Linked DNA regions of Homo sapiens: region 2 is linked to region 1. Evidence: fine-mapped expression QTL. A gene starts in region 1. The other region holds a variant in brackets. All regions are shown on one strand. Distances are between the middles of the regions.

What was found. PIP is the estimated chance that this variant, and not a neighbour inherited with it, causes the effect.
Region 2: its variant is the best candidate, but not a certain one, in a credible set for the expression of SYNPR in thyroid (GTEx, PIP 0.83).

Annotation. Positions count from the first base shown.
Region 1 is chr3:63,277,277-63,279,776 of GRCh38, forward strand. It overlaps SYNPR (synaptoporin), which reads left to right and starts at 1,032. Exons shown (of 6, transcript NM_001130003.2): 1 at 1,032-1,275; 2 at 1,401-1,466. The coding sequence starts at 1,258.
Region 2 is chr3:63,334,845-63,337,344 of GRCh38, forward strand. The region is part of intron 2 of SYNPR (synaptoporin); the gene reads left to right. Among named protein-coding and RNA genes, the nearest start is that of SYNPR, 58 kb to the left of the region's middle. The variant A/G (reference allele first, on the strand shown) is at 1,369.

The DNA.
Region 1 (2,500 bases):
TATTGAATGAAGTAATGTTTGTAAAGCCCTTAGCACAGTTTTCAGCTCATAGAAAGAACTCACTTGTTTGGTTGTTGTTGTTTTTATTATATTCAGCAAGATTAGCCCACTAAGAGTAAACAACGTGAACCACCTTTCACTAAGTTTCAAGAAAACAGTCTAACTTTGGAGGAGGGACCCAGTGTTATATTTATGAGTTTGACAAGGGAGTTCATTTGGGGGTCAGATATCAGGCAAAAGATCTCAGTAGAAATAAAATGAGTTTGAAAGGTACCTAAATTTCATTCCCTGTTTAGCCTTTCATGAGATGTTTTACCTTGGCCATTTCATCCTTGCTAAATCTGTTTTCCACTGGCGCATGGTCCCACATTCAAGATTAATTTGTTTCCACCTCTTCTCTCCAGGCAGTTTCCTCTGTCCTGGTCCTCTCTCTGGCATCCACAGGCCAAGATGGATCCCCTGCCCTGTGCCCATGGCCCCTGTGCTCTGCTCTGCGCCACTGTCCAGACCACATTGCAAGTTATTTTTCCCCTTTTGCTTCCCCTGGGGGAAGTGACAATGCTTATCCTGTTTTTTTGATGTACCCCAGCACCTAAGCACTGCCTGCCCACAGGAAGGATGCTCCATAAAGGCTTGAAGGAATGAATGAAAGAGCCAACAAATAGTTATTTTTTTATTTTTATGTATTTATCATTATTATTATTTTGCTGTTTGGAAGTCATCAGAACTCACACAGATGTCTCAGGTAAAGTGTGGGTGTCTTCCTCCTACCTGGAAACCCCTTCTTCAGGTGGACAGCCGTCTTGCTGATGGTGCCAAGCCCGCTTTCCCAAACCAACAGACCCAAAGTTTCCCCGGAGCCAGAGGGCACCGGGCGCACGGCTGAGCCTGCACCAATGTCTGTGGGCCCTGCCTCGCCCACCTCCTCGCCCTCCCCTCTGGAGCGCGGCTGGCCAATGACAGCCTTCCCCTGGCTCCATGGGTTTCCCCCTCCCCTGTTGTATCTACCCTGCCCCAGCTCTTCCCTGCCCACCCCTCGCTGACTCGCTTCGCTTCCCCGACGCGCTGGGTTCCCGGAGCGCAGAGCCCAGCGTTAGCGGGTGGGCTCCCCGAGGCCCCCTGCCCTCGCCGGGCTGCTCCAGGGTGTCGCTCCTCTGGCTGCTCCCGAAGGGGCTTCTGGCCCTGAGGACGGTGGTGCCAAGCGAACTTCATTTTTAAAAAGAACTGGTGGATGAGAAGAGCGAGCGAGGGCGAGCTATGGACCCTGTGAGTCAGGTGAGACAGAACTGGGCAGGGCGGCTGGCTGGGAGCAGGGGGCGGGGGATGCCGCGGCTTGGGAGAGGCGCCCCCAGCCCCTTCCTCACGCTTTGCTTTCTCTCTCTCGCCTCATTCCCCCAAAGCTGGCCTCTGCGGGCACCTTCCGGGTGCTGAAGGAGCCCCTTGCCTTCCTGCGAGCCCTGGAATTGGTGAGTAGCAGTGTGTGTGCAGGGAGGGGCGCCAGGCAGCCAGCTATCAGGTGAGGAGAGGTCGGATGGGGTGCTCCCTGCTCAGTTCTGCTCCAAGCCGGAGATTCAACCCTCAAGCCGGGGATTTCAATCCTGCCCCCTCCTAAGATGCCGTTCCAAGGTGGTGAGGACAAAATCGAGGCACCCTGCTTGGAGGCGGGAGTGTGGACGCATTTTTGCAGGGGCTTAGACAAGTGTCGTCTCACCTCACCGCTTGCAGACGCGCAGGGGCTGTGGAAAGAAACCTCCCCCTTGGGAGATAGGGGAGGGGGGCGCATGGAAGGGCTGCCGCTGGGTTCTGGCCCCTCACCTGGACCTTCGTGGGGATGAGGGGATGGGTGGAGGGACCCATAGTTGAGCGGAGGAGCCGGGAAGACTTGGCCAAGCTCAGAAAGTTGGTCAGAACTGAGACAGCTCCTCTGCGGGACTGGGATGCTGGAAGCGCGTGTTCAACTGCTCCGCGGGAGCTTCAGGGAGGGAAAGATGCTGCGAAGCTATTACAGACTGTTATAAACGGCGGCGGGTAGAGAGCAGAACTCCTTCCTTCCCTACTATAGTTTCTTTTCTCTGGCCACTCCTCTAGGGCTTTTCTGATTATACCCAGAAGAGCCCACCAGCCTGTTTGCCATGGCTTTCTTCAGCGACTGGGCTTTAGGAAGTTGTATTCCACTTCCGTGAAACCACCCTGACGCTCTTATTGCAATTTGTCTATGGGCAGAGGAGTGAGGCACAGAAACGGTTACCCACAGGGCCACAGAGCCATGTCAGTGTTGTTGGCTGGATGATGGTTATTCAGAATGAAATCTGCAGGTCACACGTTTCGTCTTGCTAGGAACTCCAAAAGGCAAGCAAACCTATCTGAATAGAAAGTTCAAAGCCTGTCATGTAGCATTAATCAGAGTCCCTAACACTGACTAGCTGGGAAATTATGTAAGAGCCTGTTCTCTGTTCCCAGATCTTAGCTCCAAGGGCTTATATCTGGCAGTGGCTACATA
Region 2 (2,500 bases), 58 kb after region 1:
TGCAATAACCTTTGCACCAACCTAATAGTTCCACTAGCAGATACTTTTAAAACCTGATACTGGAAGAAGGCTTAATTACAGAATAGGAATGAGCCCCTCACATGCACCCTGCACTGTGTGGTCTCTGGGCTACAGCTCTGTTCTCTGGGGTACAGAGTCCAGGGAGAGACAACTGTTAATAGGTTGATGCAAAAGTAATTGCGGTTTTTGCCATTAAAAGAAATGGCAGGCCTGGCGCCGTGGCTCACGCCTGTAATCCCAGCACTTTGGGAGGCCGAGGCGGGTGGATCACAAGGTCGGGAGATCGAGACCATCCTGGCTAACACGGTGAAACCTCGTCTCTACTGAAAAACAAAAAATTAGCCAGGCGTGGTGGCGGGTGCCTGTAGTCCCAGCTACTCGGGAGGCTGAGGCAGGAGAATGGAGTGAACCCGGGAGGCGGAGCTTGCAGTGAGCCGAGACTGCGCCACTGCACTCCAGCCTGGGCAACAGAGCGAGACTCCGTCTCAAAAAAAAAAAAAAAAAAAAAATGGCAAAAACTGCAAGTACTTTTGGGCCAATAATATAAGTGTTGGGTTTGGTGCACTGGCACGTGAAGAAAATCAGGGCCAATTGAAGCCACTGTACCTGAAAGTCCAGGAGATTTCCATTTTCCTTGAATTTGGTTTAACCAAATTAACGCACATTAAAGCCATGACCTAGGAATGAATGGTCATGCCTTTGAGAAACTGTTAACCTGAGAGCTTCCTCTGATCTTGGTAGCCTTAACCAAGGTATTCGCTTGGCATACAATACTCCCTTGTTCCTCTTGACCTTGTACTTCTGTCTGGCCACTGTCCTTTACACACTCTCCCTTTTGCTTGCCTATCTCCTAGTCTTTAAAGGCCACTTTTCTAACACACTCAAGTCCATATTAGCTTCCTTTTTTTTTTTTTTTTTTTTTTTTGAGACAGAGTTTTGCTCTTGTTGCCCAGGCTGGAGTGGTGCAATGGTGCAATCTCAGCTCACCGCAACCTCTGCCTTCCAGGTTCAAGCGATTCTTCTGCCTCAGCCTCCCCAGTAGCTGGGGTTACAGGCATGTGCCACCACACCCAGCTAATTTTGTATTTGTAATAGAGACGGGGTTACTCCATGTTGGTCAGGCTGGCCTTGAACTCCTAACCTCAGGTGATCCGCCTGCCTCGGCCTCCCATTAGCTTCCTTTTTTATGTCTCATTTAGCAGAAAATAGAAATGTTAAAAACAACCTAAATGTCTGACCATTCGAATGTGATTAAATATATCATGGAATAATATGCAGTGACAAAAAATATTTACTTGGAAAATTTTACATTATTTAATTAGGTAAAATAATTATAAAAGAGTATGT[A/G]TAATATTTTCTAGAGGATACAACTATGAATTTCTGCTTGAAGATGAAACTAAAAACTATCAGGATAGTACAGGGAAGAGATTATGCAATGCATAAAAGGATCTCAAATATACAACACACATACACACGAATAAAAGGCTAATTAAATATTCATCAAAATGTTAACAATGATGAACTTTGTAGTTACAAACGTGCACTATTTTACAATCTAAAAAGTTTATGTTTAAAATTTAGTCTCAATGCAATCCAATGGAGAAAAGATAATCTTTTGAATAAATAGTACTAGAACAAGTGGACATTCCCATGCAAAAAAAAAAAAAAAAAAAAAAAAAAAAAAAAAAAAAAAAAAAGACTCTATACAATAGCTTACCCTTTTCACAAAATTTAACTCAAAATAGATGGAGACCTGAATGTAAAATGCAAAATTAAAAAACTTCTCAAAGACAACATAGAAAAAAATCTAAGTGATCTTGGATTTGGTAATGATTATTAGATACATCACCAAAAGCACAATCTATGAAAGGAAAAAATTAAGTTAGATTTCATTAAAATTAAAAACTTCTGCTCTGTGAAAGACACTGTTAAGGGAATGAAAGACAAGCCACAGATTGCAAGAAAATATTTGTAAAACATATATGTGATAAAGCACTTGTATCCAGGATATATAAAAAATTATTAATACTCAACAATTAAAAACTGTATAGACACCTAGAGCCAAAGAAGATATGTCCATGAAAGGTCAGGCATGGTGGCTCACACCTGTAATCCCAGCACTTTGGAAGGTCCAGGTGGGCAGATCACTTGAGGTCAGGAGTTCGAGACCAGCCTGGCCAACATGGTGAAATCTTGTCTCCACTAAAAATCCAAAAATTCTCTGGGTGTGGTGGCACATACTTGTAATCCCAGCTACTTGGGAGGCTGAGGCAGGAGAATTGATTGACCCAAGGAGGCAGAGGTTGCAGTGAGCAAAGATTGTGCCACTGTACTCCAGCCTGGGTGACAGAGTGAGACTCTGTCTCCAAAAAAAAAAAAAAAAAAAAAAAAGATGCTCAACATAAAATGTCATTATAGAACTGCAAATTAAAACAACAATAAGAACTACATACCTATTTACCTATTAGAATGGTTAAAA